Linked DNA regions of Homo sapiens: regions 1 and 2 are each linked to region 3. The links come from fine-mapping of genetic effects on gene expression. A gene starts in region 3. Each other region holds a variant in brackets. All regions are shown on one strand. Distances are from middle to middle. Region 1 overlaps WRNIP1 (WRN helicase interacting protein 1). Region 2 overlaps MYLK4 (myosin light chain kinase family member 4). Region 3 holds the start of MYLK4 (myosin light chain kinase family member 4).

Region 1 (4,240 bases), 32 kb before region 3:
GCAGTGGCCCCTGGTGGTTCCTCAGGCAGGCTTTGACGTTGTTGTAGGCGCTGTACACCTCAATGGACTTTGGGGCTCTGGCAAAGTAGACCACACACTGGGCCAGAAGCACCTACCAATGACACAGAGGACACATTTTACTAGCAAGATGCCAAGCTTCTGTTCTGCAGAGCCCCTTCTGATACACAGCTCTAGGTAATTCTGAGAAGATCCCCACATGCTTTTATTATCCCCCTTTTGCGCCTACAGTCTGGATAACCACCTACGACAGACAGAAGAAATTCTCATGAGGTGAAACGAGAGGCAAACCAGGTGAGTGGTTTTCATTTTTTTTTTTAACTGAAGGACTTTTTACTACATTAAATTTTTCTTAAGCCCCCAATATATAAAAGAGATGAATATGAAGCTGCTCTGGGGGCGAACTTGCAGAGGCTTTGCTGTTCAGCTCCTTTAACCTTTCTGCTCCCTGGAACATATGGAGCATGTGCTCTGAACCCCGGAATCCCGAGAACAGTTTGAAACATGACCTCGTTGACACAGAAGGTTTCCCTCTCTAGGAGTCTAAGAGTCTACAATTGGAATTCCAAAGCCAAGCAGCATACTCAGTGGGTCCAATACACCAATGGTGAAGGAGGGACATTTATTCAAATCTACAAAGGGACAGAGCACGAGAGAGAAAAGAAGTGATTTGCAAGAAATGAGCTGATTACTTTACCTCACATTCAGGCATGCCTATAAAATGACAGCCTTGGTAGGCAGCAACCGCTTGTGTTAACGCAGACGGGTCTGCCAGACCTGCCACACACAGAGACAAAGGAGAGTTTCAGTCATGACACACACTGTCCTCCTGGCCTATGTGCAGGCGACCACAGACCACCACTGCTTGTACACTTGGTGACCAAAACAATCCCATGTAGCAAAACAGCCTGACTTAGCTCTAGTCTCTGATCCCATGAACTTATGCAAGAAATATTGAGAGTGGTTACTGTGTGGTGTTAAGAACTGTTTCCTTGTGGATAAAAACTCTGCATCTAGAAAAACATGAGTCTCTGTATAACAAACATAAGAAGTGAAGGCTATGGAGACATTCACCAGGATGGAAACACTAAAAACAAAACATCCCCTAAGACCAAAGAAGAGGAGAGCTTTCCTGATCTTTTTCTTCATATAGTGTCTAGAGTCTTCCATTTCTACCTTGGGAGCTGTCCAAAGAAAACCTTGAACACCTGACTTAAAGCAAATTTAAAAGCAGCTCATCTATTGCAATACTCTGAATAGCCACTCATGTTAGTAAAAACATTCCCGAAGAGGAAACAGAAAATGGTGACTTTATGAACATAAACATTCAAAAGCACATACACCAGGAAATAAACGACTGAGCTCAGGCATAAAGTCTTATCTTCTCCTGCCAGTCTCACATAGCCCTGAGACATTCTTCCTGCTACCCCCGCCCACCCCGCCCTGCAAAAAAAAAAAAAAAAAAAGCCACGATGTAACTGTTAGCCATTTCCCCACCCTCATGGACATAGGACTCCGGGACCCTCCCATCACACTCACCTATGTCCTCGCTGGCAAACCTGACAAGCCTCCGTGCCACGTAGAGTGGGTCCTCTCCTCCCTCGAGCATGCGAGCCAGCCAGTAGAGGGAGGCGTTCTGGTCTGAGCCCCGCATGGACTTGTGCAGGGCGGAGATGCAGTTGTAATGCTCCTCACCTGACATCACAAAGAGCACCACTCACACAGAGCTCACAGGAGGGGCGCCCAAGCCATCTTCACCTCCGCCAGCTGACTTCCAGAAAGCCTGAACGAATAAAGGCCCTGAGAAAGCCGAGGAGAGGTTTGGGCAGCTGCCTTAACCGTGCTCTGAGTGGGGTGCACCAGCTGCTGGGGCTTAATCCCAGTCCTATTCAGGGGAAGAGGCTGCTGCAGCAGAAACCTGTGGCTGTCGACATGGAGTGCACGCACACGCACAGAGGCAGGAGGGAGGAAAGGTGGTCCTCCCAGCTGGTGGATTTGCCAGAGACAAGAGTGGAGGGGGACGAGTCTTCTGTTCTGGCTCTATCCCGTGGCCCACCATCTACTGGAGGAAAAGCAACGGTGGGCCTGCTCGGAGCCAGGAGGATGTAGAGCCAAGTGGCAAGGGCAGCTGTTATAGCCCATCTGTTCCTCAGTGTCATTTCCAGCTGCCTTTCTGATATCCGAAGCCTGTGGTCATTTAAACCTCCTTCTGCCAGCCTTGGTGTGGGGACACCTGTGTGGCAGGGTCCCAGAAGGACCGACA[C/T]GTGGACTAACCAGCTTCCGCCCTGAAGTGGACGGAAGCCCACTCTCTCACCGCCTGGTCTTACTACTCCATTTTTACCCTAGATTCACATGAAATCAGTGAAATGTGCTTTAAAAAAAGGCATATTTAAGGGCAAAAAAATGACAGCTAAACAGTTCTCAGGAACTAAGCAGTGGCACCTGCATACATTTCACTATTCTCTGGCCATCGTCCCTTAGGTAAGTTCAAGGAGGGGGCACCCTCCTCACGAGAAAGCGGAGGATGGTGTTCCCGTGAGTCTCACTCCTCCCAGAGGAGCACCTGGTCTGTGCTCAGCATAAGCCCATGTCCACAATACGACTGGCGCCAGCCACAAACCCTGGCAGCTGAGCTCGCTGGTAAGATGACAGTTGGTCTTCAGGTGGAGAAGAGAGCAAGCGAAGATGCTGGCCTCCCACAGGGGAAAGACCTGCAGGACCCACGGCTCAGCCTGAGTGATTCTGGTTTCTGAGAGCCAGGGCAGATGGATGGGTCAGCCCAGCTACTGGATTTCTGAGAACAAACTGAGTGTCTCCTGTGCAGGGCTCCCCTGGTGAAGTCAGAGTGCTATGGACACTGGCCGAGAGGGTGTCCTGGATGACATCTGCATGGTTCTGGCCCACTCCCTCACCCTGCTGGCCCAGGCACTCAGGCTACGCTCTGCTCCTCTGCAGGGTGGAGGAAGGCGGGGAAGAGGGTAGCAGGTAACAGGCCTGGCTAAACTCACGGGCATGGGGGCTGGAAGAAACTACCCACACCACTTTATGTCAAATTTAAACTCCCCCTACACAGGTTAGTCATCTTTTCCCACTTTGTCAATGCCAGGGGCAATACCACCAGTATAATGGACAAGAGCACAGGCTCTGGGACCAAACAGCCTGGGCTGGACCCCCAAGCTCATGGGCCATGGGCAAGTTCCTGATCCTCACTGTGCCTCAGGTTTCTCATCTGTAAAATGGGAAAAACGAGACCACTTACCTCACAGGGCTGTATTAAATAACACACGCCTGGCACAGAGCAGGCACTGTAAAAAGATTCTTTTGCATCAGTGATAGATACTAGTATTATTCTATGCTACCTTCCATGTTTGCTTTTATTACACACTGCTTTATAACCTGAAATCTGACGACTTCTATAGAACCCCGATGTCAATGCATGGCAGAGAGTTTGCTCTCATTTAGAAATTCCTTCACTCTGATGCAGAAACATCACTGGATCCTACTAGTGGGTAACTATGAACTAGGTGGCATATACAAAAATAATCACAACTCTGGGGGTGGGTCTTTGTCTCACTGGAGTTATAAAAAGGCCCAAGAGTATAAGCTAACAGGTTTCCAGGGCAATGCTTCCACTATCCCTATTTATAGAGCAAAGCCTGTAAAAGCAGCTTTCTCCAAGATCTGAATGATATTTATGTGTCTGCGGATCCACTGTGGGGCAGACATGTTGCACTGGGGTGGGGTGTGTAAACACACTCATACTGGGAAGATGTATAGGATGTGGGGTTCTTAAGGCGCTGGCACTAGGCAGCGGCACTAGGCAGCCTCCACCACCCCCCAGCTCCAAGCTATAGACAAGGTGATCCCCACTGTGCAGAGCTCTGCAACGTGGAGCTCAGGAAGTGGGATTCCTAGGACTGAACCCCTCCAAGATCCGCTCTGTATGTGCATGGACGGGTGACCCCTCTCAGGAGCATGATGTAATGGGTGAGATCAGTAACAGCATGGCAAGGCTGGTGTGGAGGCAAATGCGGACGGGGGGAAGGACAGTCTTGGGAACCAGTAAGACCTGGATTTACGGGTCAGTTTCACCACTTGCTTTGTTATCTTAAAATGGGGGTAATATTAATAGCTATCTCCATAAAGCAATTTTGAGAATTTAAAAAATGAATACACCTATAAAATACTCAATGGCTGAGTGTTAGTGAATGCCATGTTATAT
Region 2 (4,240 bases), 83 kb after region 3:
CCGCCTCAGCCTCCCAAAGTGCTAGGATTACAGGCGTGAGCCACCGGGCCTGGCCTGGTCTTAATCCTTTCTTCTGATAGGTATGTTTCTGGGCCTGAGGTTTTTGCATGTCTTTTTGATTGTACATATTATTGTAAGCTGCCTTGAATTTTTTGTGGAATAAGATGGGGTAGAAATGAATCAGTACCTCATAGTAAAGGCCACACATCAGTGCTAGGAAAACACTTGGCCTTCGGAGGAAGGGACGCTTACATGTGCCCTGTCACTTATTTAGAAATCCACAAAAAGTGAACAGGAAGGCTTGTGCATTCCATTTACAAAGACCATTCTTCTTTGTTAAAAACAGCAAGGACATGAAAGTCTCAATAAGGTAGGAGAGAGTTGTTTCTTGTGAGGACAACCTGGAGCAAGAAAGGACCCTCGTGCCCCCAGGCCTAGGTTATGGCACTCAGCGAGGTGCCCCAGTCCTGCACCGTCAGTTCCTGGATCCACAGACAACCAGGCTGTGTCCACTCCTTCTCTCCCTCGCCTTCACCCTCACCCCCAGAAGCAGTTTTGTCCCTAGCGACCACAAACCCCGAGGGTTTGCCACAAACCACCTTCCCACCATAAGGACCGGAGCCACTCTGGAGGCCTGGTGGGAATGAATTCACTGGGTGCCAGGGTTGCATTCCAAGGCGGGCCTGCTGCCAGGGTCTGGTGGGGGAGGAATGAGGAGGAAATGGTGATGGGAGGGGGTAGAGTCCTTCCACACAGACATGGGTGCCTCGAACCCAATGTGATGGAAGACCACAGCAGCCTACGAAGCGATGGCTGTGCAGAGGACGCAGACAGCAGCATTTGGGCTGGCCACGCTGGGGCAGCTGGACACAGCCTCTGCTGGAACTGCTTGAGGAGGGCTGCTGACAGCCATGGAGCTGGCTGCCTTCCTTTCCTGCACTCTTCAGCCCCATTTGGCCTCAGAAATTCACCTGAGTCACACTACAGGCCAAGGAAGAATCATTTCAGATACACACAATCTGGATGCTTCCTAGTTTGCTTTCTGTTTTGTTTTTGTTTTTTTTTTAATTAGAGACAGGGTCTTGCTGTGTTACCCAGGCTGGAGTGCAGTGTCATCAGCATAGCTCACTGCAGCCTCAAACTCCTGGACTCAAGTGATCCTCCTACCTCAGCCTCCTGAGTAGCTGGGAGAAAAGGCTTTCACCACCACGCCTGGCTAATTTTTAAATTTGTAGAGATGGGGGTCTCACTATGTTGCCCAGGCTGGCCTTGAACTCCTGAGCTCAAGTGATCCTCCTGCCTCTGCCTCCCAAAGCACTGAGATTACAGGAATAAGCCACCATTCCCTGCCTACCTTCTTACTTAAAAAAATAAATAAATAAATAAAACTTAACATAAGATTTTAACTCTGGGAGCAGCCTCATTTGAGAAGTTAGGAAAAAAAAGATTATTCTTCACGATAATATTCCCTGCCAGGATGAGATGGGTTTATGGCAGGATGTATTATGATGGAAACCAAATTTGAGATAATATTGATTTTAAAAATCTGGTGGCTGAAGATTATTCCTGTTGTAAAAGAAAGAGTTCCAGGCCGATAAATAAGGCATAATTCACAATGTCAACTGAGGCATATATGTCTCCTACAATTTGTTAGAGGAAACATTCCCAAAATCAACCTGGTGGCATTTTGTTTCTGGTTACCTCTGTTATATCTTTTGCCAACTTATGGGATATAAATTTAGGGTACTCCTCAGAGCCACAGGAATGATGGCAGGTAGCCGTGTGCGGGCCCCAGGTCAGACGTGGTCATAAAGCACATGGAAACCTCCCCACACCTGAGGCCACATTCTCACTTTGATGCTGGGATCAAGCTGACCAGATGGACGGAGTGGCTGTACTTCAGACGAAACAAAGAGGCCTTGTCCTTCAATATTGCAAATAGTACTAAAATATCTTGCACACATGTCCCCATGTAACAAACCTGCACATGTACCCCTTGAACCTAAAATAAAAGTTGGAAAGAAAAAAAAAATGTCTTGCACAAACTGAAAAATAAAAAGCCCAACTCTGGTTGGTGGTGGAATCCATCAAGAGGTTTCTTTTTTTTTTCCCCCGCTCATATACACACATATGTTATTAAAAAAAATCATCTGTGGTTTTCCTAAGGGGCACAACCAACTAATTATAATTTTAAAAACCCTGCTGAATTAACAAGATTCATATTTTGTTTGCTTTGCAGGAAAACTGCTGTGGTTGCTGCTGCTTCGAGAAAATTTTTTGAAAAATCAGCAGTTCTGATGC[C/G]TTGACCCCTGTGATGACCTGGTAGTCTTAGCAGGGGGAGCCCTCGACCCTGAATGTGAACTTGAACTGGAGTGCCTCTGCTGCGCTCAGAGGAACACCCAGCGCTGCGGTCTGGTCTCAGGGCGCAAACACATCCCTGCACCCGGTGGTGGTGATGTTGGGAAGATGTTTCCCTGCCATCTTGAGATTTTTTACTTTTTTAAAAAAATTTTTTGATCTTAGTCACTGGGGCAGGGGGTGCATTATGTCTGCCATTTCTCAAATGACTACAGCTGTGACACTTAAGATTGATTGGAGATTTTAAAACTGGAGGATGCATTTAGAGGGAGAAAGCTACTTCCAGCCATTAGACTATGCCTTTGGAAGGGGCAATTAGATGGCCAGAAAGAATTCTGACTCCCATGCACCCTTGGAGACTTAGTTTCACAGACTCTGTCATTTTGATTTGGTCTGTGGTCACGTGACTACAATGGATAAATAATTTGTTTGCTGGAACAGAAGCCGTCTTTGAATTCTCCAACAAGAGGCATCAGCCACTGTGTCTTTCATTTATTCTGAATTGTCCCCAGCGTGCGTTTTCTTCCATGTAGCTGATTCTGTTTTTCACATCTATACTCCCTGCACCCTTCTGACTGACAGTTCATCCCCACAAAACACATTGGTTTTGAGAGGTGATGCAAAAAGTATCTGTTTATGGTTGGACTTTGAAATTCTGACCTTTGAAATAATGTCAACAGTCACAACAGGTTTCCTCAAGCCCCATTTGTCAACTAAAAGAGACGGATCTGCACCTCCTGGAGCAAGATAGCACTGAGCTTTCAACATTGAAGTGACTTGGGAAATAACATTCAAGCTTCTGGGTAAACACATACAAACAGTGGCAAAGACCAAGTACAGTCTCTCGCCTGTGCTGTCTCATGGGACTCAATGGTGGTGAAGAAATCTCAATCGGACACCAGAGGTGGGGGCAACTCTGCAAGCTCACCTGCTGGACGTGAGAATGTTGGAACGTTCCAGTTGGAAGGTTCCTATGCCTAGCCTGTGTGCCATTTCATGGCAGATATGTAAGAAAGGAAATGGCCCTACTGTAGACAGCTTATGGGGCCCAGAAAGGCACTGGGCTTTAAAGAGCGAAATGAGTGTGTCATTTCCACATGAAGGAGAGGCAAGGAAAAGCCCCACAAAATTCCTGTTACCCGCTGAACTCCAAGCTCACCAACCAGATTCATGAGCTTTCTCACATTTTCCATTTCCAAATAACTGTTGTGTTGAATCAGCTGTGTTAATGCCTTTATTCTTTGTTTTTTTTTTTTAGACGGAGTCTCGCTCTGTCACGAGGCTGGAGTGCAGTGGCCCCATCTCGGCTCACTGCAACCTCCGCCTCCCAGGTTCAAGCGATTCTCCTGCAGCCTCCCGAGTAGCTGGGATTACAGGCGCACGCCACCACGCACGGCTGATTTTTGCATTTTTAGTAGAGATGGGGTTTCTCCATGTTGGCCAGAATGGTCTCAATTACTGTTGTCGCAATAGCAATGAAAGGCATAAGAATTACTTGGTGGCCTCATGAGGGATGGCAGTTTCACTTTGCATCAGCTTTCCCCCATTATCTCTCAGATCCACTTAAGGAATCCTTACAGCATGCCGTGAATGTGTGCAACATCCTTATTCTCATCTTTAAGGTAAGGAGGAAGTAGAGATAGAAGGAAATACGTGATTTGGTGAAGGCCACATGCGAATTTTGTGGTCGTGTTAGTTATAAAACTGACTCCTTTCCAGCCTTTGCTCTTACATTATGATGCGTTTCTTTTTCTCCTTTGGCCTTGCATTTATCCGAGGTTGGTTTCTTATGTTCCTGTGATGTGACTATGCTTAAGTGTTTAATTTAGTTTGCTTAAAACACACACACCACACACACACACACACACAAAACCCTGTGACT
Region 3 (4,240 bases):
CTCTTAGTGTAATCCAGCCGGGTTTCAATGCCAACCCGTAGACAAGAGCTGTCGACGATGTTTCTTCATGTGGCTCCTTTGACAACACAGTCTCTTACTCAGCTAATGGAAATGTCCCTTGAAAAAAATCAAGGGATTCTTTTCCATGGCTCTGTAGGGTGCTGTTTTCCTGATGTTGGTATTTTTTAGAGAAGTATAACTCCAAAATATGGAAATACTGGAAAAGTGTTCCTGGGCCTGCTCATATTCCTCACTAATGAATTTTTCCGGGTATAAGAGCATCTTTAAGCATGCAGAACATTTTATGGGTATGGACTTAGGATCCTGAGGCTAGGCTGATAGACCAGAATGAGTATGCATGTATAACCTGTTTTTTTGTGGTCAAGGGTTGTGCCAGCAGTGTGCTTGTCCTGTATGCCATCGGAAGCTGGGAACAGTGTGATGCAGCAGAACCAGACAATCAGTCACTTTTAGCATGGATTATTTTAATTGACTTGCTTTTTAGGGCAAGTAGACACAATTAAAGATCATTCTATCTAGTCATTAATCAAATATGTATTGAATGTATATTGTGCATGGAAATGTCTATATGTGGATGCCTTCCAAATTCTTATCTCCAGCCTACACCCCTCCCCGGAACTCCAGTTTCTATCTCCACAGCCTATTCAACTTGAACGTTTAATGGACTTGCCAAAGACTTCATGCCTGACCTTTCCCTCCAGAGTTGCCCTTCCCACAGCCGTCTCCATCTCAGTTAATGTTCACTCTGTCTTTCAAGTGCTCAGAAGAAAATATGCAAAGGTGTCTACCATCTTTCTTTCATACCCCATACCCAATCTATCATAAATCCTACTGATTCTAAATGTACTGTGGAATCCTGCATGGGATTCTGGAACAGAAAAGGGGCATTTGGGGAAAAAAAAAACCCAGCAACAATAAAGTATTGAGTTTAGTTAATAATAACGTTCACCATGGTTCATTAATTGTGACAAGTATACCATACCAACGTAAGATGTTAAAAACAGAGGATTCGGGGTGCAGGGCAAGGGGAACTCTGAACTACCTTTGCACCTTTTCTGTAGATGTAAAACTACTCTAAAAGGAAAAGTTTATTACAAAAAAATAAGCTAAGGAGCAGATTCTCCTGGCCTCTGGCTCACTCAAGCCTGTGGTTGGTTTGCTGGAGCCAACGAGATAGGAAGTCTGCTTTTGCGTGGTGGTGGTCCGGGTGGAGGATGTGGTTGGATCAGCAGCAGCCCACACACATCTTGCCTCTGGCAGGGCATTTGTTGCCTTATCAGTACTTCTACACAATTTAATTATACTAACAAAATTGGTAACCTCAAACCAGCTTAGTCTTTGTATAATACTTTTGTCAGATAATTTATCTCCACAAATTTATAGTTCCACTTCATTACTTTTGCTGAAGAACAAAGCTCTCCAATCTGAAAAATAACAAGCGTTTTGTGTTTTAAAAAAGATTTTGCTGTAATTCATTAATACTACATAAAATGGAAAAATATGTATTTTTATTTCACATGGAATGCATCGATCTGAATTAAAAATAAGGTTTTTTTTTTAAAAGAAGCAGAAGAGCAGCAGAGGCTGGTGTTAGAATGGGGCATAGAGGGGCTAACACAGGCTCCAAATAAGAGGTGACAATTGGCCAGGCCCTGAAAAATTGCAGGGTTTTCAAGACTGCAAAGTCCAGCCTCTGGGCAATCAAAGTTTTATGCCACTTCAGTGAATCTAGGGATGCACTACTGTGAGAGTCGGGCAGGTGGGTTGAAATTCCCCTTTCTTGGTCTGTGCAGAAAACTACGGATGAAGTCCTAGTGTTGCTTAAGGAGAATTTATGAAAAATTTATTCCTGTTTCCTGGATGCCTGTGCCTTTGACCTTTCCCTAGAGCTAGAAATGGTTGGAGACTTTGCAAACATCTTTAAGAACTGAGAAAAATAAAACAAACTTGCTAACTGCTTTCAGAAGATCTTCTATATTGCAGTTGGATATGCTCAAAGCGTAAGATGGGCAAACAGAGGTGGCTGTGGGGTTGCCACACCTGGCATTTTCCCTACTGGGGGAAATTTAATGAGCACTTAAATAATCCTGAGTCTGAAAGGGGCAGAAGGTCCAGGCAGATGATTGCCGAGGACAAATCTAGCTTTGTAAATCCGAGAGTATTGACACAATGATACGAGGGAAAGGTGAAGGTGATATTTCATCCAGTGTTCCCGGTTCATCCTCTCCTTACCTGACCTCTGAAATGGAGCCATTGGCCTTGAAAAGCCTGGTGTCTAAAATTAATATTCTTCCCCATCTGACTAAGAAGGCAACAGCTGAGCAACGTGAGATCAAGAGCCATATTAATTTAAACAGGGGCTGAAAGTGGCATTTGAGAGAGAAGATACTTCCTCTCGTAGTGGACACTTGTCTTTTCAGAAGATTTATACGACTGAGAGTCAAAACTTTTACCAGAGACTTTCATAGTCAGTTTGAATTCTGCAAAATTTCTCTTTATCTTCTGGAATGTATGCTCTAGACTTGGAGTGGCTCAAGCTCTTCGATGTGATCCTATCAATGGTAATTATCTTTGTTTATTGTTATAACCTCTCAAATCTCCTCCCCTTTTTTCTAAGTTACCTTCAATAACAAATTGTACCAAACTTCAGGTAGAGCTTAATGTTTAATATTTCTTTGCAAAATTATTGTATCTTAATCCTAAGCTTTTGTTTTAATACATTAATTTTGTGTGGCTTCCTGATCCAACTTGAGTTTCATCTGCAATTAACCATAGTATTTTAGTCGTAGTTTGCCTTAGAAATAGCCATGCATTTGTTTCCTTATTTTAATAATTTTTTCAGGGCAATTTGAAAGAATGCTAAGAATGATCTGTAATATATCTGTAGAGCTCTGGTTGATAGTATTAATATTTGCATTTTTATTTGTTTGAATGTAAGCTCTTTATGTGGATAAGTATAATTTGTTAGAGCAGTGAATTTTAAACACTTTGGAACTCAAGAGTATCATTTTACTATAGGAACTGACAAAACAAAATATTAAGTTTTCTGATGAGAATCACAATACGGTTTTTAAGCGGAGAAAATGCTCGAAGAGGCGCTTTTCGGAAAATCTCCACCAGGGGGCCTCAGTTGTCAGCCATGCGGAACTAGCACAAATTCAAATGTCTCTCCCTCTCCCTGCCTCTCTATGCAATCAAGTGATGTGTACATATAGACATGCGTATATGTCTCTAGTATCAAAGCGAATTATGTATGCTGCATTACTTCATTTGCGAGGAAAGTATTTTAAGGAGAGTGAAAAGACTCTGAACTTCTCGGTACATAGCTGTTAATGCAGATGCAAGGAAAGGTATCTGGGAGTGCTGTCCACGTGAGAAGACTGTAAGGAAATAAATTTCTTTTCACAAATAAACACCACACATTTTAAGGCATAGGTAGAGAAGAGTTCTGGAAAAGGACTCATTCGGGAGCGATCCCTCTGCAGAGGGAGGCCAGGGGAAGCAGAGAGACCCCTTCTGTGATAAGCCCTTCCCACGGGGCTGCAAAACCTGCGGTTCCAATTAAACCCAAAGATACTTTATAATTTACATCCAAGCTGGCCACTTGATCTACGGCTTGTTTTGTGCAATAAGGAGCATATTTCATCACCAGTGAATCTTGACATTGCTTCTTACTGTTTGCTTTTGTAGTTTTAAAGTGAAAAAATTTTTTTTCCTTTTAAAGTTCCAATGTTGGAAACTCAATATGAATGTTAGTATTTCTTTTCCTGATTTTGGATCCTCTCTCCAGTTTAAACAGAAGGGACTTCCAAATTCTCACTGGTCATTTTCTCAAGAAGTCAAATGCATGAATACGTGATGAGAACTTTTTGTGTTTCCTTTCTTTGCAGTCAAGAGAAAGAAGCACTGAAGAGTCATAATTGTGTCCTGATTTATAAATCGGAGACAGAGGGAGACGAAAACCACACTCCAGAAAGTAGCTTAATCGGACTCACTACTAAGATGTTAAAAGTGAAGAGGCTGGAAGAATTCAACACGTGTTATAACAGCAACCAGCTGGAGAAAATGGCCTTTTTTCAGTGCAGGGAAGAGGTGGAGAAAGTGAAGTGTTTTCTGGAAAAAAATTCTGGGGACCAGGATTCAAGATCTGGACATAATGAGGTAATCATGTTCTAATTTAGTCTCCTAAAAAGTATTCATTCTATCTTATCTTTTCTAA

What was found. PIP is the estimated chance that this variant, and not a neighbour inherited with it, causes the effect. A credible set is the group of variants that fine-mapping cannot tell apart.
Region 1: its variant is the best candidate, but not a certain one, in a credible set for the expression of MYLK4 in skin (TwinsUK, PIP 0.79).
Region 2: its variant is the best candidate, but not a certain one, in a credible set for the expression of MYLK4 in prefrontal cortex (BrainSeq, PIP 0.56).

Annotation. Positions count from the first base shown.
Region 1 is chr6:2,780,879-2,785,118 of GRCh38, reverse strand. WRNIP1 (WRN helicase interacting protein 1) reads right to left here. Exons shown (of 7, transcript NM_020135.3): 5 at 1,558-1,713; 6 at 716-795; 7 at 1-112. Among named protein-coding and RNA genes, the nearest start is that of WRNIP1, 18 kb to the right of the region's middle. The variant C/T (reference allele first, on the strand shown) is at 2,282.
Region 2 is chr6:2,665,899-2,670,138 of GRCh38, reverse strand. It overlaps MYLK4 (myosin light chain kinase family member 4), which reads left to right. Exons shown (of 13, transcript NM_001012418.5): 13 at 2,240-4,240. Among named protein-coding and RNA genes, the nearest start is that of LINC01600, 33 kb to the right of the region's middle. The variant C/G (reference allele first, on the strand shown) is at 2,302.
Region 3 is chr6:2,749,078-2,753,317 of GRCh38, reverse strand. MYLK4 (myosin light chain kinase family member 4) reads left to right here and starts at 2,396. Exons shown (of 13, transcript NM_001012418.5): 1 at 2,396-2,582; 2 at 3,912-4,182. The coding sequence starts at 4,024. RefSeq lists a silencer at 529-823.